Linked DNA regions of Homo sapiens: regions 2 and 3 are each reported to be linked to region 1. The links are microRNA targets in miRTarBase. Many come from high-throughput screens and were not tested one by one. Region 1 holds a microRNA gene; each other region holds the end of a gene's coding sequence.
Evidence for each region. Region 1 holds the annotated microRNA hsa-miR-568 (AUGUAUAAAUGUAUACACAC, at 5,819-5,838, shown strand). A microRNA usually pairs through its seed, bases 2 to 8, with sites in the 3' UTR of a target mRNA and lowers its output. Matches are read on the target gene's strand: a 7mer-m8 pairs with bases 2 to 8, a 7mer-A1 pairs with bases 2 to 7 and ends in A, and an 8mer does both.

Region 1 (10,712 bases):
TTTACAGGAGACCTTGTCATCAGAGGACGTACTGAACTATCTTTATGACTTTGGATTTGATCAGAGGTTTAAAAAATAGAAAAAAATAAACAACACTACTTGACACTGTAAATGATCTTTAATAGAGTCATGACCTGGAGACTGATGGAGAGAAAGAAACTTCCATGGAAGAGAGTGAGCTAAATCATTTAGAACCAAACAAAGGTCACTGGTGAAACATAGGGCAGCATGTACACAGTGCAGATCAGGGTTCTGTATGGCCAGAGCCAACAGCAGTGACCGGTGGGAGAGTCAGACAACTGGCCAATGAATTCAAGTGTTGAAAAAGCCACAGTCTGGATTTTGTTGTGATTTCTGGAGTGGTTGAAACGCCCATGCCCATGGCAAGGAAAATGCTTGGAGGCTGATCTGTTGTGATAGTGCCTTTCTTGTCGTAGTGAGTACTAGATTAATAATTTATTCAGTTACGCTTTTCTGTACCATTGCCTCCAGTCTTCTGAGGAGGTTTGAAGGGACAGTATCCACTTAGGATGAAGGGACAGGATATTGCTCTGGAATGCTGTGATTTGATGATATTTGCACTAGATTCTAAACTCTCCTTTAAACTGGAGCAACTGACTGAGAGAAAAACCAAGGACAGCTCAAAGTTAAAAGAAACCAAAAGCAGTATTTTCTGACAGATACCATTTCTTTTTCTCCTTCTTTTTTTCCTGGAAGAAAACTTCACACTAGTTGGCTACCGAGCTCAACTCTTACCAGTTCTTTCTCTTTATTTTTTGTTTCCATATGGAACCATCTGTGTGAATTAGTCATCAGTTAGGTATAGTTAACGTAAAGAGCCCCTGCCATTGAAACTTTGCACACCTTCTCTGCTTTATTGAAGGCAAGGGCCAGTGGGCAGTGATAGCAGGGGAGGGACCCTCCAGAACCACCCAGCCCTCCAGGAGGCCAATAAGCATGGATATCATGTCAGGAGCTGAGCTGACATATATTTACTCAGAGGACATTGGGGTCTGTAGCTAATCCTAAAGAATGCTCCGCAACAGAAGGAAACCAATGCATTGTAGAAAACAAAGGGAGATGGTGCCCGAAGTCTGCCTGTTTCTCTTCTCTTTTCTTTCCCATCTCACCACCATGTCCTCTCTAACAGAATTATATTTCATCTCATATATTATATGTTACTAGAAAAGTCATTTGGTTCCTTGGTTTCTCTCTTTATCAGTGGGCTGGAAATTCCTCCAAATTAAATATAAATACCAGTAGCAGCTCCCCTGTGTCCAGCCAGTTTCTCAAATGCTGTCCACCTGGTCTTACTGTCCACCTAACATAACTTGGAGGCTTTGGCTGGCTCAACCACCTGTTCACTTTATTTTGTTTTCATTTCCATTTGAACTTGAAGTGAGGCTATGGAAAGGTGGAAATCATGGGCAAGGTTTGGAGGCTGCAATTCTAGGGCATAGCTTGTCAGGAGTTTATATTATCTAAAATATATCTTTCTATACCCCTTTTCATTTTAATCTGTTGCCCTGATTATAATTTCTTTATATTTGTGGTTATTTTTATAAGAATAGAGTCCATTTGCTATGTCTATTTGAGTACTTTTTTTCTATTGTCCCCACATGGATGCAGTACCAACCTGTTAATGAAATATCTTTTTATTATATTATTAATATGTAATTCTACTGTAGACCAAAAATATAAAAACAAATTTGTTCATTTTAAAGATATAAAGAACTAGGGAGTAAAAGATTAAAAGTTGAAGGAAAAGACAGAAGAGCAGTGGTTAACTATGTTGAGTTAGAAATCTAAGAGTAGCCTTACCTGTTTTTTAACCAGTGCTTGCCAATCATACCATAGTTGGAATTATGTAATCTTGGCTCCTTCATACTTATGTTCTATAATTCTTGTTTGTCTATTTGTTTTCTTTGATATAATTGAGGTTGCACATCATGCTATTCTTGGCAATGCCTGATTCTATTGTATTGTACTTTTGTTAGTCATTTCCTTTAGAAAGATGGGGGGAAACGTTTATTTCTTCTTTTAATTTAAAATTTGTTTAATGCACTGGAAATAAAATTGGACATATTTCACTGTTTAAAAAATCAGAAACAAAACAAAGCAAAACCATGAGGGAAAAAAACAGCAAATAAGCAACAGGGGAAAACAGCTATGAAAAAAATATATTTGTACTGAATACACATACAAACTACATCCCACATGAAAGATTAATATCATCAAGTAAGAAAAATACATAGTTTAAACTACAATGCTGAAAATATAAAAGGAACCTGGTAGTTCAATGGGGATGGAGAAAACAGAGCATTCCTCTGAGAGCAGAGATCTTGTCATTATTGCAATTAATGCCCAAACAGGTTAAATGTGGAAGAAAGTATGGAGGAAATAACCCCAGCCTTCCTCATACCACTGGATTTCCACATCACCTTTTAACTTATGCTTGAGCTCCCTTTTGAGAAAAAATATTTAAAAACAAATTGGCTATGTAACAAATTTGTGTGTGTGTGTGTATATATATATGTATATGCTTATATATATATATATATGTATATGCTTGAGAAAGTGGTTTTTCAAGATGTATGTGTACAGTACACACATGGACACGCTTCAGTCCTCTGACTTCCCATGTGCTACCTCATGTGTTTCTCTTCTCATGAGGATTTGCAATGGATAGTTGTACAACCTGGGGACTGTCAGTGACTCATTGGTATCAGCATATGCTAAAGAAGCTCTTGAATCCAATCTTGAAACCTGATCTCCCTTCGTCAACATTCCCCAATACCAAACTGGCCCGTTTACCCATACAAATGCACAGTAAAGGGAAGAACAGCGGTATTTTTCCTAGCCAACTGACTCTATCATTTGTTTAATGTTTGCTGGTTTTTTTCTGGTTTTGTTTTGTTTTAGAGCAGGGGTGGGAGTGGCTGTAACTTCACAATCCTAATACAGTAAATGTTTTGCATCTTCCATGTTTTATGCAAAAACAGACATTTAAATCAATAAATAATTGTGCCCTAGACTGAAGGTTAATGTTTAGGAGAGGAAAAAAATTGTTGGAATTTTTTCTACATTTTTTTGTGAAGAATCTTTTTTGGAAAGGAAGGATACATATTTTTGTTGTGTAATATTTTCTATTTTTGAATGCATTTTATTGGTACAAGACTGTTTTTTTGGTGAAGACATTATTTAAAAAAAAAAAAAGAAAAAAACTAATCGAAAAGTTTGCCCTTAAGGATATGCTGCAGTTTTGAGGTTAAAAAAAAATTACTGATTCAAGATGCGTGTTAAAAGTTGGGATTATATTGTTGTTTTTTGTAATTGTTACAAGAAGAAGTTTGTACCCACTGCTGTTTATTTTGTTTCAGATGAGTAAGTAAAGGGATTGTTCTTGTTTTATTCTTTTTTTAGAGAAAAAAAGCTATTTATGAAATGTCAAAAACACTGGACTGTGAGTTTAAGTGTGGAAGCATTTTACCACCCTGTGTCTTCAACCAATTATGGGAAACCCCTTTTCTCTTCCCCCTACCCCCTGCCTTAGCCTTGCCAAATGAGAAAAATATAACAGCTGTCAGATTATCAAAGCCACCGAAGCCCTGCTTTAATTTTTATGGTTTGAAAAAGTTGGAAAACCAAAGTTAAATTTGTTTCTGAAATCCTGCTGTGCGTTGCCCTTTTTTGTATGACACAGCCGGGCTCTGCCTCTCTATCTCAAATCATTGCCTTCTTAGGGACTGGGGGCCAACCTGATGCAAAGAGAGGCATAAAGGTGGTGAGCCTGAGAGTTGAGGTCTCACGAAGTAAAATGTGAGTGGGACTTCACCCTCTCAGTGGGCAACCACACTTTCCCATCCTGAGATGAGGCTGCCAAGAGAGCACACTGCTAACACTGCCTGAGGAGAGCACGCCTCCTGTCTCCTTCACCCTCTGCTTCTGAGACCCTCCTGTTACTGTTATCATCGTTCCCTAGCCTGGCTCTGCCTTTCTCAGCAGCCCACATTCCATGGATGGGAGCAGGGGGGCAGGGACCCAAAGGAGGGAAATGGCTGTGGGTGGTGTGAAGGCCCCCCAGCCCTCAGGAAGGTGGGGCAAGAGACCACTGAGCACAAGGGATCTTGCCCACCTCCTCTTTGACTCTGTGGATTATCCATCCATCTGCTCACTGTGAAGATGGAGAGGCAGTGCCCTAAGGCTGTTCAATAGCTTTTCCATATTTTTTCAACATTGAAAAAATAATTTTTAAAAACTGTGATTTTTTTAAAAAATCATTTGGCTGGAGGGAAGGGAAAAGGGAAACACCAAAAGCTGTACCATGATGAACTGGAGATATTTAACTGGGGCACTTTCCAGACCAAGACAAACAAATTCCTTTCTGGACTCTAAAGCAGCCGAATCTTGAGACTGTCAATGACAGAAAGCTGAAGAGAGGCCTCTATTTCTTCCTTTTTCCTTTCTTCTGTCTAAAAACTCTCTCTTGTTCCCCTTTTCCAGCTTCCCTTGGACTACTGCCCCAATGGCCCCTTGGACTCGCGTTTCATGTATGCGAGCACACACACACACAAACTTGCAAAATACCGTTTTTCTTAAGGATTGTGGGACCGAATAATATCACGTGCCTTCATCTTTTCCTTTTATAGTTAGATGAACCTCTTCCTCTTTACAATTTTTTTAAAAAGTGATAGGGGAGGTTGATGTGTTAGTGGAAGATTTGGGCATCGTTTGAGAAGTAACTTTTGTTTAACACATTCCCCCTAAACATTGAACACAAACATTTCAACCCCTTCATGACACTCTTTGGACATTTAAAGCATTGAGTAACCATGTACATGACAGCCTAAATCCGTTTGATTTCAGAGCATTTCCTGAACATTGTATTTCATAGACTTCTCTGATTTTTTCAAAAATGAGGTGAGCAATGGCAAGCAGCCTTGTTCTCCCAATTTGGTGCTTTTGCTTTTGGTGTGGGGTGGGCATGGGGGGTTGGGGGTGGTGTGGGTGTGTTTAGAAAAAAGATGCATTCCTGAAGATCTCTGGTGCTGAAGGGCCTCGAGTTCCTTTCAGAGACTGTATTTGACACACTTTAGGTACACACAAACGAATGGTATCACATGCAATATTTTAATGGAGCAATGGGAGAGGCTCTTTGAAATGGGGTTTGCATCTTTTTGTAACATTTTGATTTCTCTGGTGCCTTATTCCTACTTGATGCTGGCACTCACATACCCACAAGAAGCTGACACAGAAGTCAGCCTTAGGCGTGGGGACATATGGGTGATGTTTGAGCATGCAGGGGCCATGGGGAGTTTGGTGTCAGTTGGTGGAGAAGGGACTAGATGGCATCTCTTAGCCGAGGCCAACAGGAACTGCACAAGTCCATTATAGTCAAAGTTAGCAATTTTGATACGTAAACACAATACTTCATTCTTCCTCATCTGAGCTTTCCTTCCTTCTTCCTTTTCTATCTCTACCTTCTCATAAAGGTGCTGCTGCTGCTGCTAAGGTGCCCGGAGTCCAGAATGTCCATTAATCACTCAGGCACGAGCCTGGCACTGCCACGTCAGCCCCCAGCATGACCAAACCCAGGTTTCTCTTGCTTGGGGCTGAGAACTGTCAGATTTTTCTCATCAAAAATGTTTTCCAAGGAATCAGTGGATTACAGTTTTTCTGCATTGAAAATGCACTTTAAAAAATAAATTAAAGCTCCAGACTGTTTAAAATATACAGAGGGAGCAGGGGAAAGTTAAGCATGTGCTAGTGTCTGAACCCAGTTCAGTTTATCTCCAGTTGAAACGATATACACTATATTATGTATAAATGTATACACACTTCCTATATGTATCCACATATATATAGTGTATATATTATACATGTATAGGTGTGTATATGTGCATATATACACACATGCACATAACAAAATCAGATGCTCATTACAAATCCAGATGCTCATTACAAAACCAGATGCTACACAAACAGCAGCAGAGGAAACAAGGTTGGACTCTTGCAACAGATCACAAAAAATAAAAACAGCTACTTGCAGTGACTTTGGTCATTTCTGTATGTTCATAAAGAATGGATTGTAACAAGGAAAAAAAGGAACAGTGTTAGTGAAAAAGGAAAAATGGGCGAAACCATCTTGATCCGATGCGAATGCAGTAATGTTCTATATACCATTTCATCAGTTATTTCTTTTAGTCATGTTGATTTGATTTCAGTTTCTGGCTATGAAAAACATTTTTAAACTCGTCACCCACAACAAACTGAACAAAACTACTACAGTGAAAGCCCTTTTCAGTGAAAGATGTCAGAAACCTCAAAACCTTTGGCCTGACTCAGAACTACCATGTGAAAATCAGTACTCTCTTAATGTTTGAAATAAAAACTGAAAAAAAAAACAAAAAAACAAAAAACCTTTTTTGAAGCACCTTAACGTGGCCATCCATTTGAGAAGTGGGTGCCACTTTTTTCTTTGAGCACCTTATTGATGTGTTTGCTATCTGCTGTCTTTCTGTTACCTGTTGGCTGAATGGCTAGCTGTTAACATATACATGTGCACAGAAGAGATATCTGGGCATGTATGTTCTCAATGAAGTTTACTGTGGTGACTGCTGAAAGGTGAACCCATTTCCTGATTTTCCCGCCGCAGTGTTGTGATAAGATTCGAAGAAACCTTTTTCCCTGCACAGAAATGTTTCTTATCACATTGTATCTTAGTATGGAAAGGAATATGGTCCCTTTTTTGCAATTGCTACTGTGTACACACACACACACACACACACACACACACACACACACTGTATGTTTAGACCTAAAATACACACACCCACGCACACACTGTATGTTTATGTGACCTAAAACATACACACATGCACACACACATACATATCCATTCATTCATTCATTCAAGTGGTGTTTCCAGTGTCTGTGTGTCACTGTTTATGCAGTTTCCATTTCCCAGTGAATTATGAGTGGAGGGCAACTTTTCTAACCAGATTGTCTTTTCAGAACAAAGACCTGGGAATTGAGGAAGAGTTTGGAAAGAGGGAGAGGCAAGGAAAGAGAGCTTTAAATTGAAAGGTTAATTTCCTAAGAGGAACCTGGGCTGAATGACTGCAGTGTTATACCCTCCAATCTTTGCAGGTGGGCATGGAACACTGCTTGTATCACTCTGTGCACGGTATAAATCCATATATCCACAAAAACACACATCCATCCATCAACATATACATGGTTTGGGATGAGCAGGTCAATAGTTTTGAGAGGGAGTTTGTTCCTTTTTTTTTCTCATTATACTCTTAAATTGTTGTCAGTTATCAAACAAACAAACAGAAAAATTGTTTGGAAAAACCTTGCATACGCCTTTTCTATCAAGTGCTTTAAAATATAGACTAAATACACACATCCTGCCAGTTTTTTCTTACAGTGACAGTATCCTTACCTGCCATTTAATATTAGCCTCGTATTTTTCTCACGTATATTTACCTGTGACTTGTATTTGTTATTTAAACAGGAAAAAAAACATTCAAAAAAAGAAAAATTAACTGTAGCGCTTCATTATACTATTATATTATTATTATTATTGTGACATTTTGGAATACTGTGAAGTTTTATCTCTTGCATATACTTTATACGGAAGTATTACGCCTTAAAAATACGAAAATAAATTTTACAAGGTTTCTGTTTTGTGTGGAAGAGTAATTGATGTTGCTAAGAATGATGTTTGTTTTTTTGGGGTTTTTGTTGTTTTTTTTTTAAATGTTACCAGCACTTTTTTTGTAAGTTTCACTTTCCGAGGTATTGTACAAGTTCACACTGTTTGTGAAGTTTGAATATGAAGGAATAATTAAAAAAAAAAAAACTCTTCTCTTGGTTTCCTATTGTGTCTTCTTTATACTGTAGTTTCTGTTTTAGGCAGTTCTCCACATTCTTTCACACATTGTATTCTATGTCTAATCTGAGATTATTTATCCAAACTGAGGACTCTACCTACAAGGCCAGAAAAACTCTGAGTATATTAGTCTTCTCAATACAAGAAGTAGGAACTACAGACAGGATTGGTGATGTCGAAGTCACTTTGAGGAAATATAAAGCAAATTGGTGTATTGTCTTATACATATTCAAACCTCAAAAATGACAAGGATCACTTATTGCTCTACAAATTGATTCACATTTTTTCCTTTTCCACATGCAAATCACAGTCTGCCTGCTGTGGAAATAATCAATCCCATATTATAACACTATGCCCACCTATTCTTGTTTCCACCCATCTCTGTTATCCATGAATCTATCACTGAGTCTCCTTTTTAACTTTTGGGTTTCTCAGCTCCATATGCAAAAAAGGAAAGTTCATGGCACAAAACATGCCCCTCTTTAATGACTTTGGAGACTCATAAGGGACTCCTATTTGGCCCATAGATTCTTTGTTATAGTGACCCTGGCCATAAAGAGCTCTCTGATCTCATCATTCTTACAGAAAGTGCTAATATGGTGAAGAAAACTTATATCTTGTTTGTCCTTGGTGAAGTCAACACAAATTAAATTCACAATGTCTTCTGTATTTCAGTCAGCACTGTGCAATGTATGAATAAAAGAGAGGAAATTATTTCAGCCATGAGAAGGCTTAAAATCTAACAACTAGACATGAAGAGAGGTTTGTATAAAATCAAGAGCTAGATTGTGCCATTCAGACTCTCAATGCCAAGGGAGTTTCTAAACTAACAGGAAGTTGATAATGGCTAGAGTGAGTCAAGAAAGGGTCCAAAGAATAAGCGGTCTAGTTTGGGGACTCGCAAGAACACTAAGCTTTGAGTTGGAGAAGCTGAGTGTGGACAGACATTTCCACCAGTGTGAGGAGCACAAAAATATCCAGGCATGAGCTTGGGATGGGGAGAGTCATCAAGAGACCTCTAGACTGAAAGGATGTCAATAAATTCCTGAGATTTCAACATTACCACTGTGAATTTAAATATTTACTTCTTGCAACTCAATTGCTGAACTTCTAAGTCAACCTGATTGATAGTCTAGAAGTATAAAGAGGAAGAAAATATTTTCATGATGCATAATTTGTCTCTATATCATTTCTGTGAACCAACATCTTCTTAACAATGCCAGCCAGCTTCACCCAAAGTCTTGGATCTCTCTTTGCACTATCCACACACTCTTAAGTTTTCTTCTGTACCTGTTAAAAACATTGTGGTGCGATTTATATACAGGCTGTAATAATTGTAAATGACACATACGCTACTCATATGGTACTTCACAGTTTACAAAGTTTCTCCTTAATATCCTTCATCTTCACAGTTATACTGTAAATATTGTGATGTAGCTATGATTGCACTAATTTATAAAAACACAGGTTCAGAAATATGTGTTTTTCCAATAAAAAACAATAAACTAGTGCCTGAGGTCAGGTTTTCTGAAATCCAATAATATTTATACCATACCATTATTCTCAAACTTGAGTAATGTGTGTATGCCCATATGAAGGAAAAAAAATAGTTTCACAGACCTCCTCAATGGGAGGCGATAATAATAAAATAATTATTCTTATTATAATATCTAGTAATAAATTCATAATATGCATAATTATTTTATTATAGACATTCTTAAATAGGCTCAAACACAACGACAAGTGAACTTACTATGCTTATATCCCTTGTAGAATTATAAAACTACAAGTTACTAATTAAGTACAAGTAAAACTATAAAATTAGTAATGTCTACAATAACAATGAGTGCATAGAATGATGCTTTCCTGAATCTAAGTCATGGCTCACAAAGTTAAGTGTACTGCACACACCCTTCTGAATACAACATCCCTACACTACAGTGTGCAAAGTAAAGCAATTATCGCTTCACTTTCCTGTTAGTTCAATACTGCAAAGTCTTCCACTTCTCCACCCATCTGGGAGTAAATGAATCATTTATAAATTAAGCTTCTGTGCCTTTAAATAAACTTGATTATAATCAAGTTTATATGTATAAACACAAACATAGAGGCTAAAACCAATGACAACACTCTGTTTTAAGAAGGCTATCAACATCCAGATATAGATGACTTCTTTGAAGATTATCATTTCACTTAAAACACACAATGTTTAAACGCTTGCAGAGAACTTGTGGACCCCAAGGCTGTATCTGCAACTCTTAGCTTTCCTTATATCTCAGTTTTTAAGAACATTGATTGATAGATAATTTCAGATACCTCAGTTGCTCCAAGCCAGTTTTGTTGCCTCCATGAAAACTTCTGTGGCATCATTAGCATTACCTGGTGCACGTGTTCCTGGGGCAGAACACAATAATATTAACCCAGCATCTTGCAGCTCACAAAGCAGTCAGCCACGTTCCTGCCTCATCTTCTTAAGAATCTTAGAAAGATAGTAATATTACCATTTTATAAATGAGGAAATATTTATGAGTCTTTGATAGGTTAAGTGGCTTATCCAAAGTCGTGAAACTAATTGCAGAGCTCAGCACTTGGACCAAGTTTCTAAATTCCCTGTCCACTACACTCCATGATTACTTCTTTTTTGATCTCTGTGAAGTCCATCAGAGTTTTAGTCCCAGAGAAGGTGCTCTTCACAGCCTACATGAAGTCAGAATGAATATAGTCTATGGTAAGTCCTGTGATGACAGTCTATTTCTGCATAACCCCTATGAGTTGCAAATTTCTTGACAATTTTGGCCCTATTTACATGAACTGG
Region 2 (10,582 bases), not on the chromosome of region 1:
TCTTTTTCTTTTTTTAAACTGCCTCCACAAAGTGGCAAGGTCTGTTTTCCTCTTTTTATTTTTGGCAGTTAAAAAACAACTGTCATCACTTTGAGGCCACTAGTAACTCTGCTAAGAAGCAGGCATTCATCAATTCAATAAATGTTCTATCCCTGTTTTATCCAGGGTGTTTTATATAGTCACACAAATTTCACTTATACCATCTATTGCCTTTAAAAAGTTTACATTTTCTGGCCGGATGCGGTGGCTCACACCTGTAGTCCCAGCACTTTGGGAGGCCTAGGCCAGCAGATTGCTTGAGGTCAGGAGTTTGAGACCAGCCTAGCCAACACAGCAAAATCCCATCTCTACTAAAAATACAAAAATTAGTTGGGCGTGTTGGTGCATGCCTGTAATCCCACCTACTTGGGAGGCTGATGCACTAGAATTACTTGAACCCGGGAGGCAAAGGTTGCCATGAGCAGAGATGGTGCCACTGCACTCCAGCCTGGGTGACAGGGCAAGACTCTGTCAAAAAAAAAAAAATGGTGATTATCCTAGAGACTTAGCATGGGTTCAGGAATAAAAATCACAACTCCTAATGGTGACACATGGGGGGAAAGTTGAAAAAACAGGATTTAGCCTGTGGGAAAGTAGATTCTAGGAACATGGCGTCTTTCTAAAGACCATTGGAGGGGCTACTGTGTGGAAGAGTAGTGCTGAATGGTGAAAGTTAAAGGGATATACTTTTTTGACTTATTCTAAAATAGAATTTCATCAGCTGTCTAAACTGTAGAAACCTAGTAGTGGCTTTGAGTCAGGGCAGCTGTGATATCAAATACAGATTCCATTATTTTCTAGTTTTGTGATTTTAGTCACGTTTCTTAGCCACTCAATTTCCTCGTTTTTTAAATGTGGGAAATAATACCTATCTTTAGAGTTCCCACAAAGATCACATTAAATGTATTATGTTTATAAAGCATAGTGTCTGGCACATGGTAGGCATTTTAGTAAACGTGGTATAGTGAGAAGCATGTAAACTTTATCTGTACAGACCTACATCCTCTATTCATTATTTCTAAATGGGGAACTACTGTTATTTGAGGTAGGGTAATTATTTGTGCTACACTCTTGGCAGCTTCCAAGATGGTTTGCATTCCTGGCCTTTGGATTCTAAATGCCAGTAACACCTCAGTCATACTGACAAACAAAATGCCTCTGTACATTTCCAAATGTGAGCAGCTGTCAGCAGGGGGCTTAAGCTAGGTGCAGTCCCACCGTGGTTGAGATCTGCAGTTGCCTTAGTCTGATTTACTTAGGCTAATTTACTTGACCCTCTTCAGCCTCTTTTCCTCATTACTGAAATAGGCATGATGACTCCTGTTTTATGTGATTTGTGTTAGGGATTAGCAGTAATGTAAATAAAGCCTCTTGCACAATGCAGGTACATGGGAAAAGAAGTTATTTAGAAACTGGTAAGTTTGGGTTTTGTACTTGGCTTTTGACACAGACCACAATTTAGTGGGAATGTTCTAGAAAGGATTTAAGCCTTGATTTGGGCGTTGGAAGAAATGACTTTTATATCTCCTAGACCCCTTAATAAATACTTTTGGCTGTATTTCATGAAGTTTAGCCTGTGGTGAATCTTTTAAAATGATAGAATTCAAACGTTTGCTGATAATCTGATGCATGGTAGGCACTACTATCAAAAAAAAAAAAAAAAAAAAGATCTGCCTGCAGTCCCAGCACTTTGGGAGGCTAAGGCAGGTGGATCGCTTGAGACCAGCCTGGGCAACATGGCAAAACCCTTTCTCTACAAAAATTAGCTGGGCATGATGCCTGTAGTCCCATTTACTTGGGAGGTTGAGGTGGGAGGATTGCTTGAGCCCGAGAGGTTGAGGCTGCAGTGACCCATGGTCGTGCCATTGCACTTCAGCCTGGGCTGCTGAGTGAGACCGTCTCAAAAAAAAAAAACAAAAGAAAAAAATTCCCATCCCTACCTAAGTTTTAACAGATTAGTTGGGAAGAAAGGTGTTTTCCTAACTCAAAAAGTGATGAGTGCTGTGGTAGCAGAACTGAGAAGATTTAGATCTTAATTCTGACTACATAAAAAGGTGACATTTGAAGTAGACCATAATAGATGAGTAAAACGTTGCAGGTATTCAAAATAGCAGAAGCAAAAAATGCATGCTAGGATTCACATATATAGTACATAAGACTGTGAGTACCTACCAGTTAGGAAACAGGCTTGATGTGGGCATAGGGTAAATAGGTTGAAAAGGTAATTTGTGGCCACATTATGAGTCTGATACTAATGTCTTTTTTCTGTAGATGAGTCTGTGATGAGAGTAGTATGAAATTAGCTACAGCTGTCAAGACTGTGAAGGTATCTAGTTTGTTTTTCACTTAGCATGTGAGAAACTATGGTACAGATATAATGAAACAGCTGAGTCCCATAGCTGGTTACTTATAGAACCAAGGCCTAAGTCCAGACTTGATTTTACAATCTGCATTAGGAGATGTACTTGAGATGGTGAGAAAAAGGTCAGACCAACCACAATACTACCTTAATAATCTAGGTGGAAAATCTTGAGGACCTCACTAAGACAGTAAGGGTAAAGAGGATGCTAAGTGAGAACTTCTGAAGGTAAAAGCAGTTAAGATTTGGTGGGAGAGGGAGAAGCTGAAGATACCATAGCTTCTAATCTGGAGGAATGAGTGTTGATGCCATTGTAAAAAGATGGCAACATCTGCTTTGAAAGATACATATTAAATGCAGATAGACTTGAAACCATCTGATTCTGGCCTATTTAAGTTGTTGAATCAGATGAAATGTGTTTGAAAATTTCTCCTAAACTAGAAAAGCATAATACAAAGTGAAAGCCCTGTCCATTGTCATTAATATGCCTGCTTGTAATGCCATTAAGCAATAGCCAAGAATTACTCATGAAAAGTAAAGGTGTTTCAAGTGAAGGTCAGATTGTGCCACAAACTTGAAGAATATTATATAGGTAGCAACCTTAGTTTGCAGCACCCAGGACTTCTAGAGTCCTTGGGCTGCTAGTCCTGCTGGTTGTAGGTAGGTGATCTCACATTTCATTTGTAGTTTAGCATGTCTAGCATAATTCTCAGTTCATGGGAAATGACAGTCAGTGAATGGCTATTAATTGGTTTGTTGATTATAATTTGGGGTACAGTAATCCTAAGTAAGGGGTGATCTCTTGCAAAATACTAATAACCTTAATTTCATAGAGGAAAGTTTAGGAGTCTGGTCTCATGGGATGTTATTCAAAGTTGACAGCATATCGTGACCATACAAATGTATAAAAGTGACATTTTGGGGTTATACATCTTTAGAACGTGGAGGTAAACTCATACTCTATTTGCAGTGTTACATGATTATAGAATCACATCCTATTTTACTCCTAAGAGTAGTGGTCAATTAAATAGCTTTTTTTCACCTACTTTAGTTTAGGGTACCTTAAGATACCCTATTGAGCGTGATTAACTATTATATTGTAAAAAGAGAAAAAAAGGACTACTCTAGGTTAGTCTATATTCTTGAAAGATTTTGACTGATTTTGAGCTTTTGATATGGTAGGAAAATGTCACTTCAGAGGAATATGTACATCTGCCTATTCACTTGGGTACAGATTTTAGGGGCCTTTGGATGTAGAGGACCAGTTATTTAAACAATTAGATTTAGATTACAGAGTTCAATGTGTTTTTCTTAACTTTTATGAACAGATGGACTTATTTTGAGTCACTTGCCAAATGGCCCAACTGCTCATTTTAAAATGAGCAGTGTTCGTCTTCGTAAAGAAATTAAGGTAAGTTTTATACATTTCTTTGATTGGCATTGATCTCTTCACAATATTTATTTGATCAATAGATGCTGTATCTTATAGCTCTAATTTATTTTAATAATGGCATTTGTTCTCCTGATTAGAGCAGTTTTTAATCTATCAATTCTCTTGGGAGACTGTGGTTAAGTTACAGCCGGCAGGCAATAGTCTTCATTACTATGAAGCACGTTGATTTTCTAATAGGATTTTTTTGTTGTTGCATTCAGTGCATATTAAAATAATTTTAGATACATCTTATTTCATGGGTTTGATAAGCCATCTGTGGTAGTTTGTCACTAAAAAATACATTTTGCAAATTTGTCATGTAAATTTTGATACTTGAAATTGCATTGGGACGTATTGCCAATTAGCTTAGCCCATTGTGATATTTATTTTTCATTATTTTTCTAGAGAAGAGGCAAGGACCCCACAGAACACATACCTGAAATAATTCTGAATAATTTTACAACACGGCTGGGTCATTCAATTGGACGTATGTTTGCATCTCTCTTTCCTCATAATCCTCAATTTATCGGAAGGCAGGTTGCCACATTCCACAATCAACGGGATTACATATTCTTCAGATTTCACAGGTGAGGAAGGTAAACTCATTGAACTTTGATTTCAATTATGAAATATATTTTCAACATGAACTAATTTTCCAACATATTGTAGCAAGTATCATACAAGATAAAATGAATTATCTTTTGAACCCTGTCATAATGTTAAACAATAGCTCATTCAGACTAATTTAACTCTTTTTGTCTTTGAAGATACATATTCAGGAGTGAAAAGAAAGTGGGAATTCAGGAACTTGGACCACGTTTTACCTTAAAATTAAGGTCTCTTCAGAAAGGAACCTTTGATTCTAAATATGGAGAGTATGAATGGGTCCATAAGGTATGTGCTTATTGTTTAAAAAGACTAAGTCATTTTTAAAGTATGGGATAAGAGGGTGGGAGGAGAGAGAGCATCAGGAATAGCTAATGGATGCTGGGCTTAATACCTAGGTGATGAAATGATCTGTGCAGCAAACCACTATAGCACGTTTACCTATGTAACAAACCTGTACATCCTGCACATATACCCTTGAACTAAAAAAAAAAAAAAAAAAGATACAATATCTGGGTCTGGTGATTAACCTTGGCTCATCTGAAGTATAAACATTAGTGGTTCTCAAAGCGAGACCAGCACCATTACCTAGGAACCTATTAGGAATGAAAATTCTTTGGCCCACAGACCTACTCGATCAGCAATTTAGGGGGTGGGACCCAGCAGCAATCTGCTTATAAGCCTGTGTTATATGTGACTCTACTACATGTTTCTTGAGAACTATTGATAAGTTTTCTTAGAAGTTTGGAGATCATCATCTTAAATCATAAATGAAAACTTTTTTGTTGTTGTTGTTTTGTTTTTTTTGAGATGAGTCTCAGCTTTGTTGCCCAGGCTGGAGTGCAGGGGCGCCATCTCGACTCACTGCAACCTCCACCTCCCGGGTTCAAGCTATTCTCCTGCCTCAGCCTCCCGAGTAGCTGGGATTACAAGTGTGCACCACCACACCGGCTAATCTTTTCTATTTTTAGTAGAGAAGGGGTTTCCCCGTGTTAGCCAGGATGGTCTTGATCTCCTGACCTCATGATCTGCCTGCCTCAGCCTCCCAAAGTGCTGGGATTACAGGTGTGAGCCACCGTGCATGGCCTAAAACATCCTTTTCTATCTAGTATAAGCAGTACTTCACTTAGTAACATTTTACTTTAAAATCACACACACACAGTAACTGCCAACATCTTTTATATTAGACCGAAGACTGACTATTCGGGGTCTCGCACAAACCCGGTTTTTCAGCACTAGTGTTACTTATGAAGATCTAGGGACGTTAACTTTTACTGTCTTACCTGAATTGTTAATTATATTTTTGTTTTGTTTTCTTCCTCCACTCCCTTGCTTTCCACTTTCAGCCCCGGGAAATGGATACAAGTAGAAGAAAATTCCATTTATAAAGTACTGAGAGAATGATATTGGATTTTGCTGAACAGGCCTATCTTGAACTTTGGTAAATTATTTTTGACAGAATACTCTTTTCAAAATGGCATTTGCTGATTTCATAAACCTTTCACGTCTGGACGAATTACCAAATGCCATGAATTGCCACTGTGTGTTTATGTAGAAAATACAAATAAAAGTTATTTTGATGGCTTAGGTTTCCTTAAACTTAGTTCTCTTGTTTTTGGGTAACTGTGAATAATTAAGTTGGAATCAAGATTCAGATTAACTTTCCTATTTGCATAGAACACATGAGAGGAATAAAATGGTTGGTAAATATTGGCTAACCCTTGATTTTTATACCAGATTAACCTTGGATTCCCAGTGTCTGGCACAGTTTTAATAGCTTAAATGGAGGCCAGGTTTCTGGATGTTTTAACATTCTCTTAAGCCTTCAGAAGGGTAAAAAATTTAAAGCAAAATGATCTACCAGGGTTTAAAGCAAAGTTGCAAATTACTGAAGCTAATCTTTGCTTCCTGATTTTGAGGTTTTTGGTTTTTTGTGCCCACGTTGTGGGGAGCTCTTTTTTACCTCATTACATGGTGCTGTAGTACTCCATTCAGGCACTGAAACAAAGTTAACCCTATAAGTAACTCATGGATGGAAACCCGTAGAACTTAACAGCCTCCTCCTGACCTTAAAAGAATAAAGGTTCACAGTTTACCTTTAATTCCCTAGCAGTCTTGCCAGATGTATGGCATAAAGTCATGTGAGAAGAGTAGGTGGAAAAAACTGTACAAACTTAACCCCTTCAGGTGTTCAGAACAGATTAATATACCATGTATTTAATACCAATAATAATGCAAAATAAAAGTTTCATACTAAGTTTTATTGTATGCTGCTGCCAGTGTATATAAAACAATTACCCTTGTGAAATAGAAATTCATGAAAATTCAGAGAGGTAGATGTTAAGGACTGACGAAAGTAGAAGTTTGTATATTATGGCACATGTGTTACAGGGATAAGCTTTTGTACAGGCTTCAAATGTAGCTCTCTTGAATATTCACTGGATCATAAGGAGTGGTTTGGGAAACCTAAGATGGGGAAAAAAAAAAAAAGGTGAGTTAGGGTAAAGTATCAAAGAACATAGTTTTTAATTTTTTTCATGAATAACTTAAAAGAAGCAGGATGGGAAATGCCTATGGTCCAGTAACAGTAAAATCTTTCCCTTAATTTTCACAACCACTCTGATGTATAAGTCATTCCTGTTTTATAAACAGACTTACAGATTAACTTGCTAAGATTACTGCCAAAATACATTCTGTATATAATAAAAAAGGTTAATAAAACTCTCTTAAATCAAAAATCCAAACATCCTTAGAAAAATGAGCAAGACTATATTTAGCAGGGCAGTTTGGCAGTATCTAGTGAAGTAAAGGATGCAACCACACTTCTAGTTACCTAGATAAACCCAGACATAGAGAAACATGTACAAGGATACTGACTGTATTAGTATTTTAACAGCAAAGAACTGAAACAGCCTAAATATAACTCCGTAGGAGAATGGATAAACGAAGGTTTCTACATATGATGGAATACAAAGCTATTATAAGTTATGCCTTAAAAAATAAGTTATGTTTTCAAACCATAATATTTCAGTTTAATAGAGTATAAACTAAAAGATTTAAAAAATGAAAACATTAAATTGAAAAACAGTGTACTAAAAAATTAAAACATGAGCATACTAACTTTAGGATTAGTTATTGATATGGAAAGGTACAAAAGTGTTAATCTGAGATAGTCTGTGACAAAAATGTTGAAAAGGCATAAACAGAATGCTGTGAAAAATGTTTAATCTCACCTAAAATAGTGACAGAAAAGACTAAGGTTTGTTAGGACTCAAGGAAAAAACATTCTCATGTTTCTAGTGGAAGGCCAAAGTATTATATTGGCAGGGGATATCAAGTACAACGTTGTAAAAATGTTAAACGTTCACTCCTTTTTACTTCTAGAAACTTAATAGAGGTACTAAGTATATATAGATGTTCACCAAAATCTTCACCTCACTGTAACCTCAAATTTTGGAAACTTAAATATTCAGTGAAGTATAATTCCATCATAGTTTAGTACAACCATTAAATATCTTGTTTACAAAGAGTATTTAATGAAATAAATTCATTTAAAAAAGGCAGAATGAAAAACGGCGAATACTGTCAATAAGCCTGTCGTCTTATCTGCATTTTTTTGTGCATACATGTTCTACTGATTAACAGTTTTTAATCCTGTGTTATTCTATTTTGTTTTGTGTAAAAGAGGAAAAATTTCAAAAGCTGGAATCTCAAAAAAAATAGTAAAATTTCCTCTTAAAAGGAAATACAGGGCCGGGCACGGTGGCTCACGCCTGTAATCTCAGCATTTTGGGAGGCTGAGGTGGGCAGATCACCTGAGGTCAGGCGTTCGAGAAACGCTGTCTCTACCAAAAATACAAAAAGTAGCCGGGCGTGGTGGTGTGCACCTGTAATCCCAGCTACTCAGGAAGCTGAGGCAGGAGCACTTGAACCTTGGAGGCAGAGGTTGCAGTGAGCCGAGACTGCGCCACTGCACTCCAGTGATAAAACTGTATTTATATACATAACTCCAATGTAGATTCTTTACATTCATGCCACTCAGTGTAGGTCCAGTACTGTCAGCATCAGTGTAGGTGGGCAGTTGTAAGAAATGCAAGTTCTAGGGACTCACCTCAGACCTTCTGAATTAGAATTTGCATTTTAACAAAGTGATTTGCATATATTCAAGCTTGAGAAGCAATGCTTTGATGCCCAATTATTATTCTCCTAGCCCAAACTGCTGCAAATCTTAATATCCACAAAGCTGTTTTCTTATACTGCTGGGATTAATAGACATTATTTTACCTTCTGGGTTCTTACCCCCAGCCATATTTTTAAACTTGAGCAATTCATTTAAACACTTATCTGTAGATTCCTATGAAGTAAAACTATTAACAGCTGCCCAGTATTTTATTCAAATGAAAATAAACCACTGTAAAGTGAATACAAGAACTGAGGTTAAAAAAACAATCATTAATAAACCATAAAAATATGAAACTTCCAAAAACTACCATGAAGAATTAAATGAATAGTACCAGAAACAAAGGATATTATAATAAACTGTTAAATATGAAAGTGAATTACTTCTTCATGTGCATTTTTGTGCACATGACACCTGTTTTCAAAGGGCTTTTTTTCCCCCTGGTATTTCAAAAAACTTAAACATCTTAACCAATCATTGTATTTACTGGAAACATGTACTTATACAGACTTCCTGGACACTCCCAGGTCTAGGAAGCTTAATTAAGGAGGGCACAACTATGTAACAAGGTATTTTAGGAAGCAGCTTCCTGGACTTTGGAGAAGTCAGAAAGTTAGTAAGGGGTGTGTGCCATATACAAAATCTTTTTTAAAAAAGTACTATTAGTTTAAGTTTGCTTCTCATAGGTCAATACTAATGAGTACATTCCCTAACTAAAGTACTAAGAATTTATAAAAGGCAGCACCCTTCAGTTACATTTTAAATGATCCAAAACGTTTTTGGTCACATCTCTTAGATTAACATACATTTTGTACACATGACATTTGATCTGGAAGGCACAAATTAATGTACTGAAGCATGCTTTAATAAAGCCAACAGGGTCTTTAGTTTTTAATTCTCTGAAATTCAGTCCACTGTCTGTTTGCCACCAAGAACTTATATACTGCATTTCCTTCATGTTTTATCTTTAATCTAACAAATGAGAACAAAATATAAAGTCTGTTCTACCTCAGTCCAAACGCCTCTACCACACTGGCTTACTCAATTACATCTGACTTTCTCTTGCATTTCCAATTCCCAATCTTTGCTATACTGCTCTACAGCTGGGTTCAGTTAGAGCAATAACATCAAGAGTTAATCCAAATCAGTTGGTAGTACTTTAAGTTATCCCCATAAACATTGCAGATTTTTTAAAAACTGTCTAAATATTTGCCAGGTACACAAAAACAAAACTAGTACTTGGGGACTCCATTAGGCCAATGCTCTAAAAAGTAACACATGGCTTGTTACGGCAGTGGGATTTTGTAGTAACTCTCCTATACCCTCTTTATGGTTATTAAATCCTCTACTTAACCTTCTTTATGGTAAAATAGAAACGATTAGCCTTCATGGCTACTAAGTCAGCAAGTTTCATGAATCCTCACTTTCCTTGCAAAACAGAAAAATACTGGAAATGGAGGGCCAAAGGAAAGGGCATGGGATGATCTTTTAAGTGCTGCAAAGAAAGAGAAGACTAGTTATTCCTACAGTGTGGGTTTTTGTTTTAAATTTAAGGAAACTTACCTTTGAAAGATTCATTTTACTACAAAAAGGAACAGACTTTCTGGGGTCTGAAGGGATTTGTACTTGAAGATACTCCAGTCAGCAGAGGGTCATGTTGAGCATTCTGCAGACAGAACTGTTTCAAGTCTGCAGCTGCCTGGGAAACCTATACATAACAAAGAGGGGGGGAAGTGCCAGATGGTGAGAACATTTTAATGAAGGTTTTCTCAATCTTTGGAAATATTGTACTTACAATAAAACAGTACTTCTCTTGCTTCAAAAGAAGATACTATATAATAATTGAAGACTTAAGTCAAATAGTGAGCTCTTTTTTTTTTTTTTTTTTTTTTTGAGACGGAGTCTCACTCTGTTGCCAGGCTGGAGTACAGTGGTGCGATCTCGGCTCACTGCAACCTCCGCCTCG
Region 3 (10,712 bases), not on the chromosome of region 1:
GCTAAGTGTTTTGTGTACTGGATAGGCCAGTTCCCTCTCCAGCTGTGTATCTGAAGAACGTTGTAGGAAAAGCAGGTCAGTCCTCAAAGCCAAGGACACACAGCACACAGTGCAGTGGATTAGTCTGTGCTTAAATCTTCCTCTAGAGTTGAATGACTGTCGTATTTATTTCCTACTTTATTCAATAGATACTTACTTACATTCATTAGTTCTACATTTCTGCCACTCTGACCTAGGCCAAGTTTTGTAGCCAGCTCATGTGTAGGCAGACAGGAGATGATTGTGATGGGGCTGGGAAAAGCAGTAACCTGCCCGCACATGCAACTGCTCCCGCACAGTGACTGGAAAGGAGCTTTTGCACTCCGTACGTCCTCCTCAACCCCAGCACTGTCCTCGTCCCACAGCAGTTCATTCACATGGGTTCATTTCAGTCCACAAACTCAGAGGGGCAAGGCAAGTGGCATTATCCCCATTAGACAGATGAGCAAGCTGAGGCTCAGAGAGGTGGAAGGTCTGAACTACATTTATGTTAGCTATTGTGAGTAGCAGAGTTGGAACTTGAACCCAGGTCTTCTGCCTCCCAAGTCCAGCATCACAGGAGACAGAGGCACACTTGGAGCTGGAAGGAGGGTTTGAACCCAGGAACCTGAGCAAGGAGTGAGACTTGGGTCAGTCATGTGTCCTTGGAGTTGTAGGTGTTTTTTAAAGCTGTGCTGATCCACATTTCTTCAACTGCCCAAGCTGGGCATTTCACACCCCAACCATAGAATGGACGACAGCACATTAGATCTGTACAGTTGCAGGACTTTGCCCAGCAGCAGCCAGGTGACACGGGTTCCCTCTCGTGTCTCACAGATGCCTCTCTCTCCTCACAGGCCTGCTCACTGCTACTGTGGCGTCTCGCATTCACCGGGCCGCCCAGCCCGCCCTTCTCTATTTGGTGCCATTTACTTTATTGCCACTCCTCACGATGGCCTATTTAAAGGTGAGAGCAGCAGTTATAAACCTGTGAAAGCAATAACTTGGATTGGCCTGTGCCTCGGTTTGCACTCTCCTCGCTGGAGGTGATTCTGCTTAAGCCCCTGAGTGAGCTTGTGATCTCGACTGTGTGTGTGTGTGTGTGTGTGTGTGTGTGTGTGTGTGTGTGCGCGCGCGCGCTACCCTGGCGTTAGCAAACGCTTCCAGATTCGTGCAGCCACTGACAGAAAATGCTGATGAGCTAGACCACTACACCACCTGGTCGAGGAATAACTAATTGAAAGCCCCAGAGCCCAGCTGAGGGTACTTCCTGCTTCTGTTCAAAGCAGTGCCCTCCTGCCACCTAACAGCTTAACACTACGTTAAAGTTTGGGAATAATTAAGATTGAATAGTGTTGAGGCAGCATATGATAAAACCAGAGTTCAAGAGCACATTATTTCCCAGATATCTATTCTCAGCCCCGTTTTACAGATGAGGAAGCAGATACAGAGGTCAACTTACTTGCCCAGCTCACTTGACTCACTACCTCTAGAGAGTTGATAAAAGCCCTTTTCTTGCTCAGGGAGCCTAAAAGCACCCCTTCTAGGGAGTCCTCCTAAAAATAGTGGGTTATTTTTGAATGGGTAAGATTTAAATGCTCTTTGGTTTCCCACAGAAGCAATCTGATCTCAGATCAAGCATCAGAAAGGGGCCAGGGGCATGGTGGCTCACGCCTGTAACCCCCGCACCTTGGGAGGCTGAGGCAGGCGGGTTAAGAGTTCAGGACCAGCCTGGCCAATATGGTGAAACCCTGTCTCTACTAAAAACACAAAAATGAACTGGGCATGGTGGTGAGTGCCTGTAATCCCAGCTACTCAGGAAGCTGAGGCAAGAGAATCGCTTGAACCCAGGAGTCGGAGGTTGCAGTGAGCTGAGATCTCGCCACTGCACTCACTCCAGCCTAGGTGACAGAGTGAGAACCCATCTCAAAAAAAAAAAATATCAGAAAGGGGCCAAGCGCAGCAGCTCATGCCTGTAATCCTAGCACTTTGGAAGGTCGAGGCAGGAGAATTGCCCGAGCCCAGGAGTTTGAGACCAGCCTGGCCAATATATAGGAAGACTTCATACCTGGAAAAAAAATTTTTTTTTTTTAAAGAATCAGACAGCTGTGTGTGCCTCATGTTTAAATCTGTAACTTAGAAAGTCCCTTGTTTCCCAGGGCGACCTCCGGCGGATGTGGTCTGAGCCTTTCCACTCCAAGTCCAGCAGCTCCCGATTCCTGGAAGTATGATGGATCACGTGGAAAGTGACCAGATGGCCGTCATAGTCCTTTTCTCTCAACTCATGGTTTGTTTCCTCTTAGAGCTGGCCTGGTACTCAGAAATGTACCTGTGTTTAAGGAACTGCCGTGTGACTGGATTTGGCATTTAAAGGGAGCTCGTTTGCAGGAGAGAGGTGCTGGAGCCCTGTTTGGTTCCTTCTCTTCCTGCGGATGTAGAGGTGGGGCCCCTTCCAAGAGGGACAGGCCTCTCCCCAGCGCGCCTTCCTCCCACGTTTTTATGGATCTGCACCAGACTGTTACCTTCTGGGGGAGATGGAGATTTGACTGTTTAAAAACTGAAAACAGCGAGGAGTCTTTCTAGAACTTTTGAACACTAAAAGGATGAAAAAAATTAGCAAACCGAAGTTTCTTCAATGACCCCTCGAGAACTTTGGGACCAGTTTCCTATAGGGGACTCAGTTTCAGAGAACTGAGACAGAAGCTCTTCTGTCGTTATATTCTTCTTTCCTTTTTTTGGATTTATTAAATATTTTCTGTGGTGTGAAGTGACTTATTAAATCCACAGACATTGAGTGACTTCTTACAACATCCACATAAGAATTTGTTGTAATGAGTTCATGTCCACCCAGATGTTGTGTTGGCAGTGAACAAGGGCACGGTTTTTATACATACGTACATATATATATATAAACACACACATAGATATATATGAATAAACAAAAATGAAATCCTGCTAAGATCACGCTGTGTAGCTGACAGGGGCTTGCTGTCGTTTTGAGCATGTCGAGCAGTTTACTGTGGCTTCCTTGTATATGGATAAGCTGCTGTCCTTCCCCTTCACAACTGACCCCGCAGTTACAAACTAGTATAGCATTTGTGCTGATTGATGATAGACTCATGGACTTCAGGAGCCCTTACTTGGTTTTGATCAGTGTAGCAAATTAGGGATGAAGAGTTCAAACCTTTTGGCCCTTTCTTTCTTTTCTAGGCTTCTCCCTCGCAGGGTGTTCCGTAGTTTCTTCTCGAGCCAATGCATGTATTATAGCAGCAGGTGTCTTTGTGCTTTCTCATCATAGTAACGTACTACTTGTAAATACATTTTTCTATTTTCTATTTTTTTGTATTTTTTTTTTTGACATTTTGTTTCATTGGTGTGCTGTATATTTTCCATGCCCTCACTCCTTTAAGAAAAAAAAAAAGGAAAAAAGCAACACAATCCTGTCCTTGCTGTTGTGATTATAGTCTTGGTTTACCTGTGGTGACAACCGGGTGTTGGGGACACATGTCAAATGCCCCTCTGAGATGGGCCCTAAATTCCAGTAACTGGGGAAAGAACCAGCTGCTGTGTCCTGAGAGCCTGGCCCTGTGCTGTGGTCTCTGCTGCAAGCCCAGATTTCTGGGAGTAACTAGTGTTAGGTCTGCTGACCTTTACCTAAGCAGCCCCTGCCTGGTAAGAAGGTGCCCATTGTTCAGAGGCAAAGAGAAGCCTGCGGTTGGCATGAGGATGCCTGACAACAAAGGCTGGAGAAGGGCCCTGAGTTCCAGCCTCTCCCCAAGGGTCCCCGCCCCAGTGGCTGCCTCTGTCTTGACCTGTGTAATGAATTAGTGTGCTGTGTCACTGTGGCTTGAAGTCACTGTGGATCGAGCTCACAGGGGGCACCCATCCTGTTGTCAACAGAGTCTGAAGCAGTCAGGGTGTTGGATTCCTCTGTTGTTGTCATCAATTCCTGCTGAGGGGTTTCTGGGGTTTTGTTTTTAATAAATGACTCCTTTGTAGCCTTTGTCACATAATCTTCACTTTGGTTGTTGGTACCAAACAGAGCTCCCAGCCATCTCCTCCCTGTTCTGGAAGACTGATGGGAAGACTCTGTCTGTCCCCAGACCTGGTCATCTGCAGCTCTGGCCCAGTCATAGATACATCAAAGAACTGAAGCTTCTGCTGTCCACAGAACTCAAAACTGCCTCTGCATTGGGTGAAGACTAAAAATCCACTTGCGGACTCTCCCTTCCTTCCTTCTCAGCCCTCGAGGATGCATATAGCTAATTAAGCAGGCCCAGAGACAGAGAGGGGGGCTCCAAAATGACTCGGATTAAGGGCAAGTGCCAGTGATGGGTAGAAATAACGTTATCCTTCATGCCTGTAATCCCAGCACTTTGGGAGGCCGAGGCAGGTGGATCACAAGGTTGGGAGCTCGAGACCAGCCTGGCCAACATGGTGAAACCCCGTCTCTACTAAAAACACAAAAATTAGCTGGGCATGGTGGCAGGCGCCTGTAATCCCAGCTATTTGGGAGGCTGAGGCAGAAGAATCGCTTGAACCTGGAAGGCGGAGGTTGCAGTGAGCAGAGATTGCGCCACTGCACTCAAGTCTGGGCGACAGGGTGAGACTCCATCTCAAAAAAAAAAAAAAAAAGGAAATGTTATCCTGGCAGTGGGTCATTTTAATTTTTCTGTCTTTGTTTTCATAAGAAAATTAAATTCCAGACAGAAGGAACGTCGTTATTTTGTCATTCTCACTTCTGTGCAGGTTTTGGGGGGAAATACCCACACAGGGCTGTGAATGCACCCTGGATTCCAGTTGCTAATCTTCAAAGCCCTTAAAACACTCCCTTAAAACTTTGGCAGAGAAACAGCAAATACTCTACTCGTCTCGGAGGGTTGAGTGGGTGGCTGCAGTTAAAGCACACATTAGACTTCCCTTCCAGTGCTCGTTTGCTCCCCGCTGCCTGATACACTTAGGTCCGCCTCTTATTCTGTTTTCTCAAATACCATGGTTTAGGGGTTTTCTAGGAAGTCTGCTGCATTAGGCATGGCATGCTCATGAAATTTCAGCAGATTCCTTCCTCACTGATCTGAAGTCCTTTTTCCTCACAAAGAGACTGTGTGTTACTAGAACTCCCGCTTTTTAATAACTCTTTTTTCTAGTTTGAGCTAATGAAGATATGACAGTAAAGTCTGTCCAAAGCCTAGTGTGTTCCATTGCTGTTATTACAGTGCATACGCTTTCTGAATGTGACAGTGACAGCTCCCCGCATAGGAACGGTTCGGTGGCTTGGGACTAAGCTACTGTCTGAATTACTTTTGTAGCAGGCTCACAGGCCTTGGGTAAACAGGTAAGTTAGGTCACCCACAAGAAAAACAAAAGTACTCGTTCTCTGTGAGGGTGGAGGGGAAGGGAGTTCCATTTTGCCAATCAAGTGTTAAAAATAGAACCTGCTGTGTCTGCTTAGCAGCTCTCACGTTACTGCTCACCAGATCCCATGTTGTGTGTACGTTTCTGTTTTGTAAAGCCTAGCGTTTACGTCAGAGCCTGGGAATGCAGCACTCGTGTCTATACATGGGAGTACATGCCTTAGGGACATCATTTATACAACCCCCTTCTCTACAGAGCTATGTCAGCGGTACAGGCTCAGAAGGAAGCCATCTCGGTCTCTTTCTGGTCTTCAGTGCACAGTGGCCAGGACAGCCTCCCCCACTTCACCGAATCACATTTCTTCAGCAGTTTCCAACAGTGAAATCATTTCTAGGACAATGGCTGCTAACACGTGTCAGCTGAAGCACTGCAGATCGAGTCATCCAACTCAAGCTTCTTCCTCTTATTGGAAGGGATAAACCAGGTAAGACTTTTTAATCCAGAAATTATTCCTATTCCCTGCAATGTATAGGGTGCTTTCTATCTGCAAAACTCTAAACTCAAATTTCTGCAGGTTCAGATTCCAACTGTCTCATGCGCAGAGACTCTCCCATCACAAAATTCTTCCCGCTCCAGCCATCATCTGTTTCCTCCTCAGCCTTTCCCTTGAAATCCAGAGCCCTTTCCTGTCCGTTAGAGGCAATCAGTCATGTTTCAGTGAAGCTTGAGGCACTGGGCCCCCCAGTGAACAAAACCAGACATCCTGACCCCCTACTCCTGCGGTCTGTGCAGGGCTTGCTTTAGCATGCTTGGCTTGTGGGGAGGGGGTGTGGCAGCCATTCCCACACAAGGTCACGCAGGGATGCCACAGTGCGTTCAAGAGTAGAATCCACAGCCTTCTCTCCGTAACTCTGGGCCTTGCTGTAAATAGCAGAGGCTTGGGCTGGGGATCCTGTATCACTGGACGGGATGTGCCAATGAAGAGAAGGCTGAGAAGCAAGTTGGTGTAGGAGAAGCCCAGTGCTCCTGGTGGACACAGGCCTGCATTCAACCAAATGTCTGAAGACAAGCGAAAGCCTACAGCCCCAAGCGCAATGATCTTTCGTCACTACAGGTTTCAGAAGTCTTACCGCACGGAGCCAGTGGTTAGCAGGTGCTTGATACAAACATCCTGCAGGGAGGCTGTGAAGATTCTAACTGCAGCACTTACGGAGGAGCACTTTAGCGTGCGGTAGATTTCCTAGATAACCTGAGGTCTTAAGAATTCATGCGGCAGACTCCGCTTCGCTTCTGGTTCCTTTCATTTGGAGTCTGCCTAACCAGTTTTTCTCTTAAGTTCCAAGACATCTTCTTCCTGTTGAGTAGAACCTGTAAAACACGCCACCTGTCTGCAGGCGAACAGAGGCTCTGAAGGTTCCAAAATAGCTAAGCCCACGAGCTGTCTCCAGCCCCCATGGAGTCCTGGGATTCTCACCAGATCCAAAGATGACAGGAATGGGAACCAGTTAGGCAGAGGAAGCAAGACTTGAGAGACTGGGAGTGGGGAAGCCGCCAGGCAGTGGGCAGCAGGCCTGCGCTTGTGAGGAATGGGAGACAGGAAGTGGGTGTCCACAGGACAGAGACGGAGGGGGACAGCACGATGGTCACTGCATTCAACCAAATGTCTGAAGACAAGCGATCCAGCCCCGGGATCCCGACACCAGTTGCTCTGTCTCACCAGAGAGCCTCTCTCCAGGCGGACCACCTGTCAGCCTGCTACTGCCACCTTTCACTCTGCCCACCTGGAGCTGCTGGAGTGTAGCCACCACGTGAGCTTCTAGCTTTTGTGTTTGAGCCTTTGCCATTAGAGATTGAATTTCCTCACACCTGCGGTTGCTGTCGTGCCTTGATGGGGTTTTTATCCCCAGGCAGATAGTAACATATCCTGTGACAGCTCCCTGGGGAAGGCGGAAACCAATTTCAGAGAAAGAGGCTGAGCGCTTGCTAGTGCAGGGAGGAACTAAGATGACGAAGCATCGCACGGATGAGTCGTGGCCTTGCCGGCTTGACGGCGGGTAGAATGCAGTGCCACCCTCCCCAAGACCACCATCTGGCCAGGAGCCCCGGCCCCACCTTTCCTCCTTCGCTTGTGCCTCCTGGCACTTCCCGCAGCCCTCCCCTGTTGAGTGTAGGCGTTCTGCCCGGGGCAGTCGCTGTGAGAGAGGCCATGGCCTGGACTAGGGTGATGCGAAGAACAGAACTTGCTACCAGATTGGATGCAGGGTTGGGGACTCCACAGTGACTCCACACTTCTTAACCTGAACAATGAATTGCCAAAATAGATAACAGAAGAAATTGGGGAAGAAGAGTTGTTCTAGCCAATAGAGCAGCTAAAGCCAAAAAAAAAAAAAGTCTTCAGTGATGTAAAGCCTTGCAGAGTATGCGAGATGACCTGGACAGTGAGAGGCAGGAGGAAGACTGCTCTGTGGTGCTCTGAGTGTGAAGGCATTTGTCATGCGCATCCCCCACACAGCCACCATGGGGCTCTGGTTAGGGATGGAGCCCCCTGAGTCCGAGCTGCTTCATCTGAAATGGGGATGAAGGTGCCTCATAGAAAGTATTGAGTAAATATGAGGCGCTCTTCTGGTTTACTGTGTTCTCATATATTTCACACACAATGCTCAGAGAGTTGGAATACAGTTAAAATCATTAGATCTGTACGCTGTCATTATTCAAACCACCACAGCTCCCGGTTCATCATTAGGAATACTGGTTCTCTCCCCTCTGCTGAGGGGTGATTTCCCCCATCCAGGGTCTTGAAATTTTCTTCTACACACTGAAAGCCTTAGCACAAAGCTCCATATGCAGAGGGGGATGGTGGGTGACCCTGCCCATGCAGTTCCTCATTTTGGCTTCTTAAGGCCAAGAAGATCAACCTCTACCCAGATTCTGCACACAAACCAGTGTTGACGTTTTTATTTTTCTGTACTTTTTTTTTCCATAATAAACACTGCATGTGCCCTCTTTAACTTCAGTGTACTTTAAAGTCTTACTGCTTGTTTTGAGGGAAAAGTTTACTACACTGTGAAGCTCCCATTCTGTCAGTCTTTTGTGGGCCTGTATTAGTTGATACATCTAGGTTTTTCTTGAACACCCTTGGAACAAAAGACTCATGGGCCAGGGCCGGGCTCGGTGGCTCACGCCTGTAATCCCAACACTTTGGGAGGCCGAGGTGGGTGGATCACCTGAGGTCGGGAGTTCGAGACCAGCCTGACCAACATGGAGAAATCCCGTCTCTACTAAAAATACAAAATTAGCCGGGTGTGCTGGCATATGGCTGTAGTCCCAGCTACTCGGGAGGCTGAGGCAGGAGAATCGCTTGAACCTGGGAGGTGAAGGTTGCAGTGAGCCGAGATCGCACCACTGCACTCCAGCCTGGGTGACAGAGCGAGACTCCTTCTCAAAAAAAAAGACTCATGGGCCAAACTCCTATCCTGTGTTAAAATAAAACACAGTGTCATTCTAAGCCACTTGGCTCAGGTCAGTCCACTGAATAGGAGAGGGACAGTAGCCAGACTAGAGAGAGTGAAAGAGGAGATTCCAGCCACGCATTTGGAAAATTCTCAGTCCTCCAGGACACAGTGAAGCAATCAGGGCTGAGGCACCGTCTGATGAAGCAGATCAATAACTGGTGGGATGACCCATGACCCTCCCCAAAAGTCGCTGATGAAGGAGCTGATGCTACCTTGAAGGGATGGGCCCGGGCTTCGTCCTCAGCCCTGTCCTGTCCCACATCCCTCTTGATCATTTGGCCAGGGACACAGTTGCCAGGCTTCATTTGAGGAGAACGTGAAGCAAGGAGAAGGGACATACTCATGACCTAAAGAAAGCTCAGAGGCCTGGGGTGTCAAAGCAGATCTGGGGAGATCTGCTGGAGAGAGCCCCAGCCAATGATGGCCACACACCGGGTGTCAGTCATGCCTCCCAAGAGCCCTTTAATAAAGGCAGGTGCCATTACTGTCACCATTGTCACAAAGGAACTCGCCAAGACCCCAAGATCACAAATTGCTAAGTGGCAGAATAAGCTCTAAACACTGTCCCTAATCATTATATTCCATCCTCATCCCAGGATTAGAAATGATCTCCACCCCAGAAAATACAGGTAAGGCATAAACACTGATGGCTCTAGGGCCTACTCTTAGTTCCAAATACATTTAAATCCTACTCTTAGTTCCAAATACATTTAAATCCATCCACTGCCTGTAGCAAATAAAGATTCTTGCAACAGCGTCTGCCTGGGTCTCCCTAACTGCAGAGTGTGTTCCATGCTGTGGGCCAGAATGGTGGCCTGTCATCTCAGATCTTCAGTCTCATTATGTAACGGCAGATTTTATCATCCATTTTATGTACCCAAAGTTTCAAGGGCAGCTAATTTGCCCCAGATCTTCCTGCTTCCAGAGACTGAGCTCATTGCCCAGATTATGAGAAAATAATCACAGCCAGGTTTTGTAGACACGACTTGTTTAGCATACATACAGAACTGTGGGGAGTTTCTGTAAACAGGGAAGGACCATGCAAACAGCATCGTATTGGAGATGGAGATCCACCAACCCTAGTAGGTGGCAGGAAAGAGCTGGGGTTTTGGCTGCCAAGCCCTGGGCTGACCCAGCTGCTGTCCAGAAGGGGCATGCCGACACCTTCCTCTCCAATAATGCTGCAGCAGTGTTGACCATTACTCATGAGAGGGTATCACCTCACACAAACTAGGAGTTCCTAGGAGGAGGGGACCAGGATGCATGCCTCCTAGCAAGCCAGGCTTAAACTAGAATCTTTGAGGCATTCAAAGCAACTGGATTTCATTGTTAAAATTATGACTACCCTATTGCTGATTGATTTTTTTTTTTTTAAGACAGGGTCTTACTGTGTTGCCTAGGCTGGAATGCACTGGTGCAGCCATAGCTTACTGCAACCTCCTACTCTTGAGCTCAAGCAATCCTGCCTCCCAAAGTGCTGGGATTACAGGCATGAGCCACCACACCCAACCCACTGCTGATATTAAAACAAGCCATAAAAACATAAAAACAACTGTCAGCTGCTGTTCTGATCCCCAGTAATACTGGGCTGTTATTCAAATCAATCCTCTGGCTAAAAACAACTTTAAAATATACATGAAATACAGAAAATACCATGTATAAGCCCTGCCTAAATCTGATTTCTGAAATACACAGAGGGCAGACTCTAAACAGCCCAGCTAAGGCCAAAAGAAATAAAGACAAATTTCAGCTGCTGCCCACCAGAGGAGGATCAAAGGGTTTTTTTTGCTTGTGTTTTGCCTTTTCTTTTCTTTTCTTTTTTTTTTT

Region 2: miRTarBase lists GNG5 as a target of hsa-miR-568. Seed matches in the 3' UTR shown: 7mer-A1 at 6,801-6,807.
Region 3: the mRNA of SPPL3 is a reported target of hsa-miR-568. Seed matches in the 3' UTR shown: 7mer-m8 at 2,903-2,909.

The regions. Positions count from the first base shown.
Region 1 is chr3:114,311,661-114,322,372 of GRCh38, reverse strand. It overlaps MIR568 (microRNA 568), which reads left to right and starts at 5,804; the gene lies at 5,804-5,898. ZBTB20 (zinc finger and BTB domain containing 20) reads left to right here. Exons shown (of 12, transcript NM_001348800.3): 12 at 1-7,873. It overlaps LOC124909411 (a long non-coding RNA gene), which reads right to left and starts at 10,294. Exons shown (of 2, transcript XR_007096008.1): 1 at 10,214-10,294; 2 at 8,961-9,187. RefSeq lists an enhancer at 6,361-6,410.
Region 2 is chr1:84,491,647-84,502,228 of GRCh38, forward strand. GNG5 (G protein subunit gamma 5) reads right to left here. Exons shown (of 4, transcript NM_005274.3): 3 at 10,180-10,324; 4 at 6,679-6,902. The coding sequence ends at 10,199. RPF1 (ribosome production factor 1 homolog) reads left to right here. Exons shown (of 9, transcript NM_025065.7): 6 at 3,727-3,809; 7 at 4,236-4,417; 8 at 4,598-4,724; 9 at 5,783-6,706. The coding sequence ends at 5,824. Among named protein-coding and RNA genes, the nearest start is that of SPATA1, 9.4 kb to the right of the region's middle. RefSeq lists an enhancer at 2,450-2,499.
Region 3 is chr12:120,756,536-120,767,247 of GRCh38, reverse strand. SPPL3 (signal peptide peptidase like 3) reads left to right here. Exons shown (of 11, transcript NM_139015.5): 10 at 876-985; 11 at 2,178-4,738. The coding sequence ends at 2,249. Among named protein-coding and RNA genes, the nearest start is that of ACADS, 36 kb to the right of the region's middle. RefSeq lists a silencer at 3,987-4,150.